Linked DNA regions of Homo sapiens: region 2 is linked to region 1. The links come from fine-mapping of genetic effects on gene expression. Tissue or cell type: adrenal gland. Region 1 holds a variant in brackets; the other region holds the start of a gene. All regions are shown on one strand. Distances are from middle to middle.

Evidence for each region. PIP is the estimated chance that this variant, and not a neighbour inherited with it, causes the effect.
Region 2: HPGD starts here. The variant in region 1 is fine-mapped to the expression of HPGD in adrenal gland (GTEx, PIP 0.98).

The regions. Positions count from the first base shown.
Region 1 is chr4:174,599,380-174,610,155 of GRCh38, reverse strand. LOC105377549 (a long non-coding RNA gene) reads right to left here and starts at 59. Exons shown (of 4, transcript XR_939492.3): 1 at 1-59. The variant A/G (reference allele first, on the strand shown) is at 5,771.
Region 2 is chr4:174,518,577-174,528,816 of GRCh38, reverse strand. HPGD (15-hydroxyprostaglandin dehydrogenase) reads left to right here and starts at 6,329. Exons shown (of 7, transcript NM_000860.6): 1 at 6,329-6,458; 2 at 6,750-6,873. The coding sequence starts at 6,366. LOC105377548 (a long non-coding RNA gene) reads right to left here and starts at 6,204. Exons shown (of 7, transcript XR_007058492.1): 1 at 5,688-6,204; 2 at 5,396-5,432; 3 at 1,909-2,005. It overlaps LOC124900870 (a long non-coding RNA gene), which reads left to right. Exons shown (of 2, transcript XR_007058494.1): 2 at 1-107. RefSeq lists an enhancer at 8,990-9,519.

The sequences.
Region 1 (10,776 bases):
TACTTGGTGTCCTTTTGAGACTCAGGAGTCAAATCCTTGTAGCTCAATGTCACAAGAACCTTAAAGGCACATACAGAAAGATACAAGGATATAACAACTTTAATTTTTAAAAAAATTTCATCTGTTTTTTTTTTTAGGCAAACCAAAACTTAATAATAATGGCATAGGAATTACTTTGATTAAACATAAAATCTATTAGGCCAGTTATCAAAAGACAGAGGAAAAGACCTGCAGTGCACAGAATATTATGTTGAAAGAAAACGTTTCCTTTAGGCCTTTAACAAAACATTGTTAGGCCAGGCATAGTGGCTGATGCCTGTAATCCCAGCACTTTAGGAGACAGAGGCGGGCAGATCATCTAAGGTAAGAGTTTGAAACCAGGCATGTCAATATGACAAAACCCTGTCTCTACTAAAAATACAAAAATTAGCTGGGCGTGGTGGAAAATGCCTGTAATCCCTGCTACTCAGGAGGCTGAGGCAGTAGAATTGCTTGAATCTGGGAGGTGGAGATTTCAGTGAATCTAGATCTCACCACTGCACTCCATCCAGCCTGGGCTACAGAGCAAGACACAGTCTCAAAAAAAAAAAAAAAAAAGAGAAAGAAAACGTTGCTAGCATCAGCCCACAGCGAATAGAACTTGAAGGAATAAAAACTTTTATGATCTGAAAATAAGTTGAAGAAGAGCATTACTATTTCGCACTTTCTAAAAGAGAAGAGAAAACAGAAAACATCAAGAAACAATACAAGTTGAACTTTGGGTTTAAAACAAATTAAAATCTCTTATAATTCATTAAGAGTAAATCAATCCTTTAAGAAAATTTTATTGTTCTAATCAATTCTTTTGTGTATAAGTGTTTTTATCATCAAATTTAATCTCTAGAAAGACCACTATAAATCCCTTTAATTATAGACAACTTGATCATATTAACTTTTTTTGGGTTTTGTTTGTTTGTTTGTTTTTTAGACAGAATGTTTTCCTACAATATATTTTTATTGGAAAATACCCAAATAATGAAATATATATTATTTAATTTAATATAAATTTTGATTCTAAATTATGACAAGTTTGTTTACAAGTGTTTATCCCATTACATTTACCTAATTATTTTATTTTAATCATTTACCAAGATTATGAAAACTGTGATAGGCATCATTTAAAGTTATGAAACTCCCCATTGCAAAATTATAACTGAGACATTAAAAAAGATATGACCTCACTGACTCCATCTTGCTGCTAACCTCCAAGCTGTCCTTGTTCATTCTTGGGCATAGGCTGAACTAACTTTGGAAGGAACTTAGTTTATAGTTTAGCTTTGAAAAAAGATGGTAACAGTCCTCTTACAAACAAACCTCCTTATTGCCTGTGGTCTGGACTGCCTAAAGCCAGAAGATTATGGGTTGTGGTAATTTTATTAAATAATTTGAGATGTAGCTATTTTCATTAAACCAATATCAATATCTTATCTATTAAAAATTACACAAGAAAGATCATTCCATTTTGGGCTGTGTTTATAGTTTTATAAACCCTATGCCAAATTTTGACACCTTATAGTATTTGGCAGGGATAAGTATGCAATTGCTTGATAATAATTTTTAAGACATTTCTAATACTACTTTACTAATAATTTTAAGCTACCTTATTTATTAAAGATTTTACTTAAGTCACATAAAATTGAAAAAGCATTTGACTAGTCTTTCCTTTTTCTCCGATGAAGTATTTGATTTAAGGACTTTTATTTTTCTTGAAGCCAATTAATAAGAGCTCTTTTATATATTTTAGTAGTGAAATATTGTGTAGAGAACACACAAATACATAGATGTGTTAGGCATAATGATAAAAATACACTTTATGAATTCCTACGACCTCCTTTTTTTTTCCGTATCTTAGACTTGCAAACTCTTGATAAACTGATTCATTATCCTGGCAGTTGTCAGGTAAACAGCCCTAAATTTGCATATTGAAGGAAACAACTCTTAGATTAAAAATCAGATTAGCAAAATTTACATCTCAAGGTACAGAGAAAAAAGGTCTGGTGATGCTACAGGGAGATTAAAGATAGATGCTAAATCAAACATAAAATTGTAGAAATCTATCACAGGATTGCATGAGGAGAACAATTTTATTTAGATAGGGACTATCTATCTTCTAACTGGATCTCTGAACTCTGGGCAGAGTCCACACTGAATCCTGGATCTCTAAAAAGGGAGAATTATTATGAAGCTAGACCTCGTGATGCTTTTACAGTGCACTTTAAAAAAATTTTTTTAAACAAAAACATTTGTTTAAACTTCACTTTCTTAAAAACCCAAGTATAGCCTATGTTGCAATAACTATTTTAGTCAAAAAATCAGGTAACACAAGTATCTAAACTTTACTTCCTTAAAAACCCAAGAGTAACCTCTATTGCAATAATTATTTTAGTCAAAAAATCCGGTAACATAATACAAAAGCAAGCAGTTTAAGAGCTGAGATGAACTTGTCTGTTTGGAAAACACTCTTGGAGTTCCATAAGTAAAAACAGTGGTTTTTCCCCAAAAGAGAGTCTGGCACCTTCTCCATTTTCCTTAAGGAACCCCAGGCTATTATAAACTATTTTAGGTCCCTCATGCAGCACAGGGTGCAAGAGAAAGGAGAGACAGCAGAAGTAAATGAAGGAAACATAATTCAGTCAAATGAGATGAAAAAGACAAAGTCCTAAGAGAAAAAAAAAAAAACAAAACACACACGCACACAAAATAAAAAAGGTGAAGGCCTTTTAAATACAAAAACACACACATGCAGACATACGCACACACATTTTGGATGTTAGTTTTTAATTAAGCTGACTTTTAACCACTGAGCTCCTTCAAAAAAAATGTTTTAATCTATTTACCATATTTCAGCTCGGACAAATTGCTGCTGTTTCAGAAGTGCCAAGTATCCAAACAGAAAGGGCTTGATTTAGGCACCAAACCCAGGCTGTCATGGTGGAAAAATAGAAGGCAGAACTCTTAGCTATGGAACTGCAGCATGGGGCAACAGCCATTGCTCTTTCAGTTTGGCCTGGCTAGCAAAAAGGTGGTATTGCTATGTAAATAAAGCCCCTCGAGTAATCAAAAGCAGAATCTCTCCTTTCTGTTTTCCTTTTGCTGTATGTTTTTCTCCCCCCGCCCCCGACCACACCACCTTGTTGTTGTCATTGTTTTCTTATGGGAATTTAGCCACTTCAGAGGCCTTGTTCCTCATAATTTGGAACTTTCCTTTGTATTTGATCAAGTCAGAGTTGATCAAACCCAATGGAGAAAATATGGAAATAACAACAAAAACAGAAACAAGCAAACAACAACAACAAAAATTAAGCAAAACAAACAATGGCGCAACTTGTAAGATTACGGAGTGTGTTAATGGTAAGGTGAAATTAAGATCAGCTGGTTTGTCTTGGCTAAAATCTTAACTTTAGCCAAGACAAACACCAATTCAGTTACTCACCCAGGGATAGGTCTCAGACTTAAGACTGCTCTCTACCATCCTAGAAGCAGGAAAATCTCAAATTTGTCTTTCCTCTTGGAAGTGAGTTCAAACTCCATACAGGAGTTACCTGCCTTCCATTGTCATGGAAGCAGGAAAAACTTGCCTTCCTTGTTTTGGAAACAAGTAAAACTCCAAGAAAAAAAAAAAAGAGTTGTACAGCAATAAACTTTAGATCTTGACCAAATATTGGAAGATCAGGGATGCTCTGGAGGGAGCACTTCCAGGCCTCAGCAAATTGTCCTATTGGTTAGACCCACAAAGATAGCTCAAGCTGGTACCAAGCACCAATAGGAGATTTGTCAAAGGTCAGGGGCACCTTCACTCAGAATCCCTTCGTGGTTACCAAAATGTGAACTGCAAATATCTGAGACAGGTCTCAGTTAATTTAGAAAGTTTATTTTGCCAAGGTTGAGGATGCATGCCCATGACACAGACTCAGGAGGTCCTGATGACTTGTGCCCAAGGTGGTCAGGGCACAGCTTGGTTTTATACATTTTAGGGAGACATGAGACATCAATCAACATATGTAAGATGTACATTGGTTCCATCTGGAAAGGTGGGACAACTCAAGCAGAGAAGGGGCTTCCATTCATAGGTAGGTGAGAGACAAACAGCTGAATTCTTTTGAGTTTCTGATTAGCCTTTAAAAAGGAGGCAATCAGATATGCATTTATCTCAGTGAGCAGAGGGATAACTTGAATAGAATGGGAGGCAGGTTTGCCCTAAGCAGTTCCCAGCTTGACTTTCCCCTTTAGCTTAGTGATTTGGGGGCCCCAAGATTTATTTTCCTTTCACAGAATCCTAGCAATTATCCACTGGCACATCTGACTTTTAGCATAATTAAAGAGGGGAGCAGTGAGACTGTGGGCACGCACTAGGCTACAGTGGCAGTGACTGGCAAAGCCTGCACTAACCCCTGGGCCGTCTCACTTTCTCAGTACCACATTACTTTTTATTCATATATTTTACTGTAGGCCCAGTGGAGAGTAAGATGGAAACACTGAAAAGTCACTGAAAAGTACTAGCTTTGGGAAACTGGCTGTTGAAGCTCTGAATGAGCAGAGACACTAGGCCCTGAAGAGAAAGTTAAAGGAGGATAGCCGATTCCACACAGGGCACATATGATATGTTTTCTGAAGAAAGAAAGTTAATATGTCGATTTTTCTGTAGGACTTAAGAGTCTGGAGCTTGAGAGAAGTGTAAATTAAAGATATATATTTGAAGAACACTAAGCTTATAGAATAACAAGCTTTATACACCATCTGGCCTATAAAGCCACAAGAGTGGAAAAGATTGCTCAAAATCAACAATCCTTTTTACATTAAAATAATATGAGCAGATCAGATTTTAAAATATTAATTTTACTAGATATACAATTGTGGGCTGGGAAATATCAAAATAGTTTCAGGAATACCAATAAGTATGCCTTTAATATCAAAAATTAAATTCAATAGTTACTGAAAACCACCAGTAGAATAAGTGAGTTCAGATGAATATTTAAAGTCATATCTTTGGATTCCCACAAAAAAACATGTAGTTTTCTATCAGCGACTTCTAACACTTTATGGTACATGTCTTCTTTTTTTTTTTTTTTTTGAGATGGAGTCTTGCTCTATTGGCAGGCTGGAGTGCAGTGGCGCAATCTCGGCTCACTGCAACCTCCGCCTCCTGGATTCAAGCAATTCTCCTGCCTCAGCCTCCTGAGTAGCTGGGACTACAGGTGCGCACCACCATGCCCGGCTAATTTTTGTATTTTTAATAGAGACGGGGTTTCACCATGTTGGCCAGGATGGTCTCCATGTCTTGACCTCATGATCCGCCCTCCTCAGCCTCCCAAAGTGCTGGGATTACAGGCGTGAGCCACTGCGCCCAGCTGGTACATGTCTATTTTTATTTTATAGTTCCTAGCCTACTATTTCAAGGAATGCAAGTTAGGAATTCAATTCAATAAACATTAATTCAACTGCTAGTATTTGCCAAGTATTGGAATACAAGATAAAAAGTATAGCAGCTGTATATAAGCCTTCTTTGTTTCATGAACTAATTTTTTGTGTGTCTACTAGTTTCTAGACACTGTCCTGGCATTAATATAATAGTAAATAAGAGAAACCCAACCTTCAAGTGTTCACATCCTAGTAGGTTTTTAGTCTCAGTTGTTTAACGTATGTTGAATCAGCACAGGAAGATAAGTGTTCTTACGTAATGGTTACTTAGGCAACCTGACAGCCTGAGTTAAGTAGCCCATCCACCTTGAAG[A/G]GCACATTGCTTAGTGATTTGAACATCTGTGTCCTCCAAATACAGGAAGGAGGCTATCATTTAGTCAGTATTATATAATGCTGACAAATTCTTAGTAAACATTCATGTACTCCCACACCGTATAAAAACTTCTTTGGTTTCCCTTTGGAACTAACAGTGTTGTAATTCCGATATGCATCTACAGTAGTTAATCCTTTACAGCCTAGATTTGTATCTTCCCCTTAATGTATAAATAGCTTTCAAATTTTAGCATTAGCATAATTTTCAAAGTTCTCTGAGGTGAAAATCTGCCCAGTTTATTTTATGTAAAATTGTGATATCCTAACCTATGTGAGACTTCCTCTTTATAGTCCTGGAATTCTAATTCCAGTATTAGAGTCTTTTCTGGCCACTCATTCAATCTTTTGACCAAATTTTCAGGGGAAAATTGACATTACTGTTAGAAGGTATTTGGCATTTTGTACCAAGTCACAATACATATGTTCTTCTCCCCTTTCTTTGAAGTCCAAAATCATCAAACCTCATTATCGTCCTAGAAAATAGAATGGAACAGGTATTGTATTAACTTGAGACAATAGTGAATGGAATATTAGAGGTTAAGATATGCAAAGAGTCCTTAAAAGATTAAATACTAAGGACAATATTAAGACATGCTAAATAGGCCAGGTTTGGTGGCTCATGCCTTTATTCCAGAACTTTGGGAAGCTGAAGCAGGGGGATTGCTTGAGCCCAGGAGTTCAACCAGCCTGGGCAACATAGTGAGACCCCCATCTCTACAAAACAAATACATAAATAAATAACTAGCCAGTCATGATGGTGCGTGCCTGTGGCCCCAGCTACTCAGGAGGTCAAAGTGGGAGAACTGCTTGAGCGCAAGAGTTTGAGACTGCATTGAGCAATGACGGTGCCATGGCACTCCAGCCTGAGTGACACAGTGAGACACTATTTCTTAAAAAAAAAAAAAAAAAAAAAAAATTAAAACTTAAAATGTGCTAAACAGTAAATTCCTTTAAGTCCACAAACTGTACAACAAATTATCACTCTGAGGGATTATCATCTCTTCTGGCTCATGAATTCTGTTTTTGAGGGAAGGATTTTTCCCTAGTTGAGGCATATCAGAGTTCATTTTGTAATTTTTCATAACTCTGTATTATTTATTTCATTTTTTACCAAAACACACAGGGTTTGATCTAGGTCCTGCTGCTCACTGCACAGAAAGCGAATCACTGAGATGACAGATATTGCCAAGGAAGAAGGCTTTAATTAGGTGCTACAGGAGATGGGAGCTCAGTCTCAGATCCATCTCCCTGACTGACTAAAACTAGGAGTTTATATAGCAAGAAAGAAATATAACAATGTTCAAGAACTAGGAAAGGGCTAGGAAGCAATCATAATGAATGAGGGGCCTGTCATCTCATTGTGAGGATGTGGTGATCTGGTGAGATTCGGTTTTTTGATGCTTTTTTAAAGAGGCCAGAAGGTCCTTTCCTCAAAGAAAACAAATGTAAGCTTGAAGCTTTAAGATCGGAAAGGTTAATTTCTATGTTTATCCAAAAGAACAGTCTATGGGACTATTGGGGCAGTTTCATATGTTTGTAGTACTGAGGAACTTTACAAGATTCCTGCTTCGGTGGCACTACCTTCATTCAGTATAACAAAGTCCAGATTCCTTAGTGGGTTATTTCTGCAGTGGAGGAAAAGGGATTGTTTGTTTCCTCGTATTTTGTTTGTCTTTTGTAATACATGAACTACTCAAAAATTTATCCCTTTGCTACATTCTTTTTGACCATCTAATTTCTAAGGGTCACTTCTTTCTGTTTTGATTTTTTCTCCTACAGAGGCTATAGGTTTCAAAAACTGTCACTTCACATCATACATGCTGTTAAGTCCCTTCCCTGCAAACCATGCTCTGGTCTTTTCTCCTGCAGACTTACTTTTGGAAGTTGGTAAGGTCAATCTTATGGCCATCATTTTCTCTCTCCTCTCTTCCCATAGTTTTTCATGACCTGTTTTTTCTTGCCACAAAGACTTACAGTAGGATAGGACAGCAAGAGATTGCTTACTGGACATTTACAATTTTATTCTTAAAATTTCAAGTTATTTTGAGATATGAGCATTCTCTGTCTTTACATAATGCTGAGGTCATTGTTTTGGGATAGGTTTATTTTGTTTTTGCTTTTCTTACCTTCTTGTTTTTCTGTGTTATTTTGGGGGGAAAAGTTGGGAGACAGGAACCTAAGCAACTACCATTGTCTTTAGCTATCCTGAAATCCAAGGATATTCTTATCAACAAATAGTGTTTAAACAATGGGGTATATGCCAGGAGAGAAAAAAAATGAACTTTAACTCCTTCTTCGTACCATGCACAGAAATTAATTCAAGGTGGATCATAAAACCAAACACAAAGTCTAAAACTAGAAATCTTTTGGAAGAAATCATAGGATAATATCTCCCTGACCTGAGGTTAGACAAAGATTTCTCAAGAATGACATAGAGTGCAATAACCATAAAAGAAAAGAATTAATGGACTTCATCAAAATTTAAAACTTCTGCTCATCAAAAGACTCTATTAAAATGAACATGCAAATTTTAAAATTTGAATTTTAAAATGATTTGAAAAATTATTTCAAAAGGCTGTATGAATGGCTAAAAGGCACCGTTTAAAATTATTCAGCCTCATTAATTATCAGGGAAATGCAAATGAAAGCCACAATGAAATGCTACAATACATGGATGAGAATTGCTAAAATTAAATACCTGACAGTATATTAGGTTGGGGAGCAACTGGAAAACTCATATGTTGCTGGTTGGAATGTAAAATGGTACAACAAACTTGGGGAAAGGTTTGGCAGTTTCTTATAGATTAAATATATACTTACAATATGGTCGAGCAATTGCATCCCTACTAATTTAGCCAAGAGAACTAATTTAGCCAAGAGAACAATACCTTGTACAAAAATGTCCATAGCAGCTTTATTTATAATAGCTGAAAACTATAGACAACCAAAATGTCCATCAGCACGACAAGGCATAAACAAATTTTGGTGTATTCATTCAATGGAAAAATTCTCGGGAAAAAAAATAAAAGAAAAAAGAACCTACCATTACATTCAAGGACATAGAAGAATCTCTCAGACATTATCTGTAGCAAAAGCCAGGCACAAAAGAGTACATACTCTGTAAGTCCATTAATATAAACAGTTCTATTATAAGCAAATCTGTGGTTTGGGAAAAAATCATAACATTGGCTGTCTCTAAAGGTTGGGAGAAGGGGTGGTAATTATCGGAGAAGAGAGTATGAGGGCATTTTCCAGAGATAATCACATCCTATTCTGATGGGATCGTGGTTTCATATGTGTACACGTTTGTCAAAACTCACAAAACTGCAGGCTTTTATGTTTGGGGAGTTTCTCCCCTTAAAGAAATAGGTGGAGACTGCAATAAGTATTATAGTATATAATTTGTGTATACTACAATTTCTATGGTGACTATAAAACACAAAAAATAACAAAAACTTAAAGGAAAAGAAATCTTCCATAGAATAGAAATGCTTGGATTATGTATTTGGCCTAGTCTCAAGCATGTTTTATATGCAGCAAGCTCTTGTGTTAGCATGCATTCTATCATATGATTATGGTAAAGCTGGTGGAAATAGTTAAAGGAATGTTAGCATAGACCACCAAACTTGCTGTAGCAAAAGTTTTTGCCTTCAAATGTATTCTCATGCTTTCAAGTTGTGACTATTAACAGTAATCAGATGGAACTCAAAAATTACTCACAAAATTGATTCTTATTACTTAAGCATTTGTCATCCTTGAGGAGAGAATGGGAGGAGCTGGGACAAAGCCTAGAATTCCATTATTCACTTTTGTTTGGTTAGCACTTGTTGGATACTAAATGTTTTAAACTTGTTCCTGTTGAACAATGTTGCATAGTAAAAACACAAACCGTAATTGGCAGAGAAAACTAAGAAAGCCCCCAAAACAAGGGCCCACGGCATTTAGTTTTAGATACACTGCCTGAGTTAATTTAAAAAGGAAAGAATGAAGCCAGTATCCTAGTTTGAACAGTCCTATCATATTATCATTTCATGAGAACCTGGCATTACATTATGAAAAAGCCAAAGTCTAAAGTTGTAACTTGTTTTAAAGTAGCTAATCATGTTCATGTATTTTTAAAAGATAACTTTGCCCTGATTACTATAAATTGACTATTTTTGTTTCCTCATAAGAAATAATTTAAAGAGAATCTGAAAGACAACGTATGGACTGGGAAAGTTTTTTTTATTTATTTATTTTTACTTTGTATTTTTTTTGAGAGGGAGTTTTGCTCTTGTTTCCCAGGCTGGAGTGCAATGGCGCCATCTTGGCTCGCCACAACATCCGCCTCACAGGTTCAAGCAATTCTCCTGCCTCAGCCTCCCGAGTAGCTGGGATTACAGGCATGCACCACCACGCCCAGCTAATTTTGTACTTTTAGTAGAGATGGGGTTTCTCCATGTTGAGGCTGGTCTCGAACTCCTGACCTCAGGTGATCTGCCCGCCTCGGCCTCCAAAAGTGCTGGGATTACAGGCGTGAGCCACCGTGCCTGGCCTGGACTGGGAAAGTTTTTATAAACCACATATCTGACAAGGGCCTAGCATCCAAAATTTATAAAGAACTCTTACAACTCAATAGTAGAAAAACAAAAAAACCCGATTTATAAATGGGCAAAGAAGGCCAGGTGCTGTGGCTCATGCCTGTAATCATAGCACTTTGGGAGGCCGAGGCAGGCAGATCACGAGGTCAGGATATCAAGACCATCCTGGCTAACACCGTGAAACCCCGTCTGTATTAAAAATACAAAAATTAGCTGGGCGTGGTGGCACATAACCGTAGTCCCAGCTACTCGGGAGGCTGAGGCAGGAGAATCTCTTGAACCTGGGAGGTGGAGGTTGCAGTGAGCTGAGATCATGCCACTGCACTCCAGCCTGGGTGGCAGAACAAGATTCTGCTAAAAAAAAAAA
Region 2 (10,240 bases), 81 kb after region 1:
CTGAAAGCCAAGGAGAGAGGCCTGAAGAAACCAAACCTTCCAAAACCTTGATCTTGGACTTCCAGCCTCAGGAATTGTGAGACAATAAATTTCTGTTGTTTAAGCCACCAAGTCTATGGTATTTTGTTATAGCAGCCCTGGGAAACACCAAGAAAAGTTAGAAACATCTCACCATATTCTGGAGTTGAAAATCTATCTGTATCATTGTTCTTTCTCCATTTTCAACTAAGTATCTCTTAATCCAGAAATAAATATGAATATTAAGGAAGAAACTTAATAAGAATATTTCATTGATCACCAAATTTGTGCCAGGCATTGTACTGGGTGCTTCAAGGAATGTCATTTTGTTCCCCTTTTAACAGCTCAGGAAACAGGATCAGAGAGGTTACGTAATCACCCAAAGATCATACAATTAGCAAAGGGGATGAGACAGCATTTGAATGTAGATCTAAGAGAATTCAGTGGAGTAGACAAAGCAAAGGCTTTGGAGCCATGTGACTTGGATGTGTACCCAAGTTTGTTGCTAAGTTCTGGTATCAGTCCCTTGTCTTCCATGAGGCTCATTTTCTTCAACTGTAAAATGAGGATACTACTACTTACCTTGCAGGGTTAGCAAGAAAACTAAATGAAATAACTTACAAAGGAACAAAAACATAGTAGCTATTTAAAAAGTCAGCTCCTCTATTGTAGCTTGTGGTAGCAAAGTCAAAACAAGCCCCAGACCCCAGTACTAGCAGTAACTGTCTTATGCCAGCAGTGGTTTTTGTTTGTTTGTTTCAATAAAGAAAAAGCTTATTTTTGTATTGATTGATATGTCATTATTTTAAAATTCAGTAAACATGTCTATCAGGTGAGTGACTGGCCTGCCTCTGAGCCTGGGCCTGTGATTGAGTGCTTCTTGGAATGTCTGTGCTCACCAGTGTGCATGGGATAAAGGAAAAATCAATTTAAGACTAGCCTGGCCTAACAGGTCAGAACTGAGCTGACAGACACTAGGGTATGGGAAAATATATATTTGCTCAAAGAGTGCTGATTTCAGTCTATATTCAACTTGTATTTCTTAAATAAATCGCCATTCAGACAGGGCTAAAAGTACTGCTCAGCTACAGTTATCTCAAAATTAAGAGTTTAATTTTCAAAAAAGAAGTAATACTCAGTAGTCAGCCACACCTTGTGTCAAAGCCTCCTCCTTCATTTTCTAGATAAGTGACCTTGACCAGATTCCCCAAACTCCTTAAACGTGTTTTGCTCATCTATAAAATTACCACAATAATAACTACCTCACAGCTTGGTTGTAAATAATAAACGCAATTATATATGTATAGTGCTTAATGATAATAGCATTTATATAACATTTGCTATGTGCCGGTCACTGGTCTAAGCACTTGACTTGTATCTAACTTAGTATAGTCTTCACAACAACTTTATGAAATAGGTGCTGCTATTATCCTCATTTTACTGATGAGGAAGCTGAGATTCAGATAAATTAAGTAACTATCCAAAAGTCACAGAGCTAGTAGATGGTAGAGCTGGATTAAAACCCAAGCGGTCTGATTCCAGAGGCTGTATGTGTAGACAGTAAGAGATGGCTGCTTCTGAGTAAATGTTCAACACTCAACACTTGTAATTGCATTAAAGGAATAATCACCTCTCTTAACTTTGCATCATTGCGCTGCATTTGTTTTTAAGAGAACTTCGTTTGCAAAACTAAATCAAATACAGCTCTCTACATGCTAGGAAGCCATGTGTCAGTTAAAACATAGCCACTCTCCATGCCCTCAGGCCTTTGCCGTTTGATACCCGCTCCTCTTGAGTATCTTTGCCCTCCCACTTTCTTCAACTGTTTTCCTATGCAGCTATCAGATCTCTACCATGGAAATACCAATCACAGGATCATAAGGAGCTTACTCTCTCTGGATGTCTTCAAAGAGGGCTCTGTCTTTTTCTCTGGATCCCTTCCAGCTGACGCAGCACAGGGCCACCCAAAGTACACGCGCAATACACGCTGACCAAAGAAAAGTATATATAAATATGAGATATGTGTTCAAGAGAAGATGGAAAATTTTAATAGGATGGTGAGATTTCCCATATGTTGTGATTATCTTTTTATATAACAGAAATATATTGATAATGGGTTTTTGGAGAAGAATGTTCCCATATTTTATATTAAAAGTCTATTTTGAATTTAAAATATCTATAGAACATTATATGTGGTATATTATAAAACCAAAAAAGGGCTGCTTACCCAGTCAACATCTCCCCACTCCTCTGATTTTTATATGCATTTCTCAGCTTCTATGTTCAGGACATTACATCAGCTATATATTTCTGTCATCACAGTGATTTGTGTTATTAAAAACATAATTCTTAGCTAAAACAAAGTTAAATTTGAGATAAACCATCATCCATATAATTTTGTAAGAACATTCTTATTTATAGGCTATACAGGTGAGTGTCCCTTATCCAAAATGCTTAGGACTAGAAGTATTTCAGATTTCAGAATTTTGGGGGGATTTTGTATTTGCATGTACATAATGAGATACCTTGGGGCTGAGACCTAAGTCTAACCATAAAATTTATTTGTTTCACATACATATTATACATATAGCCTGAAAATAATCTTTTGCATTTTAATAATTTTGTACATGAAACCAAGTTTGTATCTAGTACTTACATGTGGAATTTTCCACTTGTCATGTTTCAGATTGTTGGAGCACTTTTTAACAAAAACTTTCATTTAAAAAAGATTATTGCTTAGGAGTGGGGGCCAGGGAGGCAGTGTATAATGACACTATCTTTGTTTTGCTAGATAAGTAAGTAATTTATGTCTATTTGGAGACTTTATGGCAATAAATGATCTAGTAGGTTAGCCAATTTGGTTGCCCTGATGGCTATCTACCAAAAAGATTTAATTTGCCCCGTGTTCTACATGATTTAGTCATCAGGGACATTTGGGAGGATTTTTTCTATTGGGAGATATATTAGGTTAGGCTGTGATAGAAAATAGAAACAAACATGCAAAGGCTCAACAGATAAGAAGTTTATATCTTGCTTACATCACAGTCCAGGAAGGCTCAGATTTTGGAGCAATTAGGATTTCAGATTTTTAGATCAGGGATGCTAAACCTGTGACTGACACACAGCTTCCTGGCATGTAAAGAAGGGCCACAAGAAAGACATGGGGCATGGAACACCTCAGATGTGATGCCCAGGAGTTTAGATATTTTAAGGATTTTAAACATGAGAATATCTAAACACGATCAGATCAGTTTTAGAAATTTTCCTAGGAGAAGTGCAGAAGGTAAATTGGATTTAAGAAATGTGGAGCAATTAAATGAAATAAGTCAGGTACAGAAAGATAAATATTGCATGTTCTTAGTCATATGTGAAAGCTAAAAAAAAACCTTATAGAAGTAGAGAGTAGAATTGTGGTTATCAGAGGCTGGGAAGGGTAAGGGGAGATGTGTATAGGGAGAGGCTGGTTTACGGATACGAAGAAACAGCTAGATTAGAGGATAAGTTCTAGTGTTTTCTAGAACACATGTAAGGTGAATATGGTTAACAATAATTTAGTGTATAGGTTCTAAAAGCCAGAAGAGAGGATTTTGAATGTACACAACACAAGCAATGATAAACATTTGAGTTAATAAATATGCTAATAATCAAATATCCTGATTTTGTCACTATACATTGTATACATGTATTGATATATCACTCCGTACATATATATCACTCTGTATATATAGATCACATAAATATGCACAGTTATTCCATGTCAACTAAAAAGGGAAAAAATCCTTCCTTACAAAGATCACTGTTTGGTAAGCAGTTTAATTCACTGTAATAAAAGCATCTCACAATGCGAAAAAAAGTGGGGGGCGTATTTGGAGGTAATGAGAAGCTAACTGCTGTTTGCTATCATAGGAGAAAATATGAATCTGGACAGTGGCAGTGGAAATTGAGAGGAGGGAAAGGGATGAAGGGGTACTAAGTTTTCTCTAGACCTCAGTCCTTGCTATCTACTAAAAAAACCTATTCTTCACATTTTTCTCTATCTCACATTTATTATTCATTAATATTTCAGAAGTAATATGTTGGGACTAATATTAATGTATTAATACTTTGTGGCAGGCTCTGTAATAGTGTTTAATATGCTTCACCTATTTTAATTTTCACCTTTTTTTTTTTTTTTAGAAAAGCTTACTTTATAATAAGGAATCTGAGACCCAGAGTTGAAGCAAATTGCCCAAGGTTACACAGCTGGTCAGTAGCAGACACAAGATCCAAACCCGGTTTGTCTGAATCCAGTGCTGACGTCCTTGTGCCTCACCTATCCGCCACCGCCAAACTGCTTCCTGTTCTTCCAGTTGTCACTATCCTTGACTCATTGCACTTTGACCTCAATCAATCTTCTTATCTTTTCTTAAAAGAAAAACATGTTTGCTGTCTAATCTTTTCAACTATTATCCAGTCCATTTCTCTTTCCATGTAACCTTGGTCTTCAGTCCATGACAATATCTATCTTCTCACAGATCATTTCAGCTGTTCAGTTTTTGTGCCTTCTAAATTTACTCACACTAAATATTGTCCTGAAAAATTCAAAATATTTCTCCATCCTTTATTCCCTGGTGCTCACCTGAGTATTTTGCATTATTAACTACTTCTTTCTTCTTGAAAGTATTTCTCCCACAAGAGCTGCAAACCTGTGTTCTCCCAGCATGTTGCCATTTTACCCCAGCAGTTCCTTTTCTGTCTTTTTTGCCAGTTCCTTCATCAGAAACTTCTATGTTCTGTGCATGCCATTAGAGGAGCTGAAGTTTTGTTTGGTTCCTTGTTTTCTTTTTGTCTTCTACTATTATTCCCTTTCAATATGACCCCTCAATTTACTCTTCATATTACAATTTTAATTATCATCCTAGAGTACAAATATCTATTTTCCTGTTTTAATTTCTCAAGATTTTGTCAAGACCTAATTTCAAATTAATGTTAAAGACATTTGCTTAGCGGCTTACCAACAACGCGACAAGACACATTTTACACAGTCTCCTCATACACTCCTTCCCTGCTGAGCCAGCCACCTTTCCCAGTAAAGAAGGTAAAGAAGATATAAAAATGATTCATTCTGCTGTTAGTGTCAGTCTTTTGCTCAACTCCCATTTCCCCCAAGTATTTAGATTTTTTTTTTCTTTAAGAAAATAAATGCCAGCTGGGCATAGTGGCTCATGCCTGTAATCTTAGCACTCTTTGGGAGTCCAAGGTGGGAGGGTCGCTTGAGCCCTGGAGATTGAGGTTGCAGCGAGCTGGGATTATGCCACTGCATTCTAGCCAAACAGACAGAGCGAGATCTTGTCTCAAGATTAAAAAAAAAAAAAAAAAAAAAAAGCCAACCACTTACGTTTACAGAATTAAAATTGCAGCCTGCCGCTGACAACCTGAGAAAAAGAGACAAAGTCAGTGGAATAGCCCTTGTTATTTATGCAAGTCCGCATACAGCTAGCCCTGGAGTTCCTGGAGAGCAAGGAACCTCTGTCCCAAACTTGACTCAGAGCTTCCAAAGTTGGTGTATTTCAACAAGTAAGCATTCCATTGAGCCAACAATTTGGTAGGCTACCAGCGGCTCTGGAGCGCCTGTTGATGATGACAGTTTTTGTGGGGGCATCTCAATATGACACACAATTGACACTGACCAGAAACACAGCGCCAAGGACACTCTAGTCCTAGCCATGAAATGTTATGATTCCAGGTTTTCAGGACAGAGCAGAGTCCACTTCTCATCTCCAGTATCCGTAAAAATTTGTCCAAAATGTAACTAAGAAAACACAATGATATTAGTTACTTCTGCTCCCCGTCACCCTCAACCCCACTGATTACGAGATGGGAACTCACACAAAACTTTGAGACAAAAGAGCAACAAGTTTGCTTTATTGTTTGCTTGTTTTGTTCCGGAGTCGGGGCCGGGAGGGAGTGCAGGAGGAGGGATCCAAGCTTCCAAGCCTCTGCTCCGCTCTCCTTCTATCCAGTTGGTCTTTAGGGCACTGAAGGAAACTCTTCTTCAGAAATAACCTTTTAACTTTTCTTCTGTCAGCTGCCTGCCAATCACGGAGCCAGAGGCTGAGGGGAGGCTTTGAGCCGGTCTGCGAGTCCGGAAGGCAAAGATCGCGAAGCTTGGCGCTCCAGAACGCTCAGGGGGCAGGTGACACAGTCGTGGGTTCCCCGGCGGGCGCTGGCTTGACAGTTTCCTCCCCGCCCACTGGCAGGGGAGCGCCCCGCCGGGCTGCACGCGCGCGCGCGCAGGGGGGCATAAAAGCCGCGGCCGCGCGGAGACGCGGAGCTCGCCCACCGCCCGCCCCAGCAGTGGCTGCACCATGCACGTGAACGGCAAAGTGGCGCTGGTGACCGGCGCGGCTCAGGGCATAGGCAGAGCCTTTGCAGAGGCGCTGCTGCTTAAGGGCGCCAAGGTAAGCCCGGCGCCCAGCCGCGGAAATTTCTCTGCCCACACACTCCGAGACTCGCCCCGCCGCCCGAGGTGCACTGGCGGAGACAGGGAGGCCGCGCCCGGCGTGCCCACTTTGCCACTTCCAAAATTTGCTGAAGCTGAGGCTGTGAGCACACCTCAGAAGTGGCTGGGAGGGAACCCAAACCTAATTGCCAAATTTCAGGTCCAGGAGGGGAGCCTCTTGTGTGTTTATTGTTTGTCCGTCTATTTCGTGAGCTGCGCAGGCCCGCGATTCCTCTCCTCTTGTCTATAGGTAGCGCTGGTGGATTGGAATCTTGAAGCAGGTGTACAGTGTAAAGCTGCCCTGGATGAGCAGTTTGAACCTCAGAAGACTCTGTTCATCCAGTGCGATGTGGCTGACCAGCAACAACTGAGAGGTAAGACAGGGGAATCAATCTGTCAACTGGGAACGTGCTCTCAACAAGCAACAACCTGAAGGCAGCCCGGCCAGGGGGCCCTGGGTGCCGCCTCCGCTGCCTCCTCGAGAGCAGCTACCTTGAAGCTCCAAAAGACAGTTTGGACTGATACGTTTCCTTCTGACAGCCCAATAGCTGTAAAACCGAAAGAAAGGCAAGACTGCTGGAGAAATCCTTTTATTGTAGTCATTTGGCAGCATTAATGTAATCAAAATTCCTTTATGTATTCAAAGACAGTGCTGCTGCAGTAATTATTAAATGATTGAAATTGCAGACAAAACTTGGAAAATTAAAGTAGGTTAAGTAAGGTACTGTTGACAAACAACTTCTCCCAGAAAGCTGGAGTCCAATGACAATCAAATGTGGCAGTGTTTTTCGTTTAAACATATCAGAATACAAGTTCAAGGAGCATCATCACAGAAGTGCTAGATGCTTTTGACCATATGTTTTCTCCGGCTTTTTCCCCAATGAGACAGTACTTTAAAATAATAATAATAGTAATCATAATAAAGTATACAATGTTAGAATTGTAGTAGAAACATCTCTATCAGCCTTTCCTCAATGCTTTCCTGTTTCCGGCTACTCACTTAAAATAGACCAATCTACTTGTGAAGTATCAGGGACAATATTGGCATACACAATAAACAGCTTTGATTATAAAGCTGTTTTTTTTTTTTTTGTACATCTATTGGAGAACTTGAGAGTGCCCCAATAAACTTACAGGAAACAAAAATTCTGGAGAAAAACTAGAAAAGTAAAATATTTGTATTTCACAAAGTTTTATTCAAAGAGACTGAGTAAATTGTAAGGCACTTTTTAATCAAGGGGTCTGAAAACTTTTGCAAATCTTATTCCAGTGCTCCTGTTCTTAAAGGGACATCAAATGTACATTTATTTTAAAATTTTAAAATATTCTGTAAGAGAATGAAAATGAACTGACGTGTTAGAAGGAAGTGGTGTACCAACAGTTAAGAGAAATTGTAAAGGAAATTACATAACTGAAATCTGAAAATGCTAATAAAGACCTATAACACAGATGACAAGCATGAGCAGAACAGATTTGTAAACACAATGCAAGAGGAACATATTGTACCAGAGGACAATTATGTTGATTGCACATGATATTTTGGATCAAGGATAGAGCCAGGTCAGATCTCAACATTCATGCTGATGGCATAAGGAACAGTATAAACAATCTGAAAGCCATTTCTGTCTCAATTTATATAGTTTCATAAATGACATTTAACTACAATTGTTTTTTTCCCAGTATTTAAAATTAATACCTTGGCTATAAACTCATTCCTTAAGGATAAATGATTGTGGAGGAGGAAAAATACTCAGACACATAAGTGACCCGGGAAGGCATGTTGGTCATGAGAAATCCACATGTTGTCTGGACATGAGCATTTGCTTGCATCTAAAGGAAACATGACATTGATTCTTCCAGTTTCAGGATTTAATGTTGCCTATAACTTTTAAAATTGTTTAGACAGTGTGGAAATTATAAAAATATGAGATGAAAAGTTTCTTGGAGATAATCTAAACATAACTTATTTTCCAAATGAACAAATCACAGCCAAGAGAGTTTAGGTAAGTTACAAAGAGTACCATAGCATATAAATGTCAGCAAGAGGTAGACTGTCTGTTGCTTGAGCCTGGAATTCAATGGGATGTCAGAAAACAAGATGGTATACTATACATTGGTAAGGGCAGAGTATAAGGAATACGGTGGAGAACAGAATGAGGAAAGAAAATTAAAGCGGCAATTAGACATACATATTTAACACCCTCATTTTCCAAAAGGTGAAGGTTGTTTCTGTGGAGTTATGAAGAGTTAGAACATACTCAGAATGGAAGGAGAAAAAAAAAATACTGGGGGACATTTTCTGGACCCAATTTGAGATTTTAAGAAACATTTTTAAGATTCCATGAAAAAAGGCCGGGTGCAGTGGCTTCACGCTTGTAATCCCAGCAGTTTGGGAGGCCGAGGCGGGCGGATCACGAGGTCAGGAGATCGAGACTTTCACTCGCGTCTGTGTGAAGAGACCACCAAACAGGCTTTGTGTGAGCAACAAGGCTGTTTATTTCACCTGGGTGCAGGCTGGCTGAGTCGGAAAAGAGAGTCAGCAAAGGGAAATAGGGGTGGGGCTATTTTATAAGATTTGGGTAGGTAAAGGAAAAAGGGGGGTTGCCCGCTGGTGGGCAGCAGTGGGGGTCACAAGGTGCTCAGTGGTGGAGCTTTTTGAGCCAGGATGAGCCAGGAGATGGAATTTCACAAGGTAATGTCATCAGTTAAGGCAAGGACCGGCCATTTTCACTTCTTTTGTGGTGGAATGTCATCAGTTAAGGCAGGAACAGGCCATTTAAGTATCACTACTTTTGTGATTCTTCAGTTACTTCAGGCCATGTGGATGTATATGTGCAGGTCACAGGGGATATAATGGCTTAGCTTGGGCTCAGAGGCCTGACAGAGATCATCCTGGCTAACACGGTGAAACCCCGTCTCTACTAAAAATACAAAAAATTAGCCGGGCGTGGTGGTGGGCGCCTGTAGTCCCAGCTACTCTGGAGGCTGAGGCAGGAGAATGGCGTGAACCCGGGAGGTGGAGCTTGCAGTGAGCTGAGATCAGGCCACTGCACTCCAGCCTGGGGGACAGAACGAGGCTCCGACTCAAAAAAAAAAAAATCCATGAAAAATAAACAGTTTGTGTTTGTTGTTCTTCCATTCCCGTACAGTGAGTGTAAAAGGTACATATTAGGAAATCTTGAAAATGTTTTTAGTAAACAACTAGCATAGTAATTTATCTATATGGCAACTGATTAATCCATGTCTTCCCCAATATGTCTGGTGGTTGTTAATGATTATATGAATTTATTTCAATCAAAATAAAGCTTATGCTGACCTACTTTTTTTAAGGACTTGATATGTTGGTCTGGACACCTGAGAATATATTTCCGTCATGTAGAAAAACAACCACAATTTTTATCCATAGTGTAAAATAATAGAAGTAGAATGAATGATCAAAGGCCCGGGGAAACAGTTTAAATCAATTAGAACTCTGTCAAAGGCTGCTTTGAGAAACAATAGACATGTGATTGGACAGTGTAATGAAAGACATTCAGGCCTCAGAATCCATGCCAACTTTATCCTGTTTGAACATAGTTTTATACAAACTAGTAATCCTAGTAATCTGAAGTAGTAATAATAGTGAGAAAGAAGAAGGAAATAGTAAACATCGAAGTTTCAGTAATCAAATAAAATCAACTGAATGAAAAGTAGACTTTTACTAAGATATAAAAACTCCCCCAAACATGCATAATAGATCTG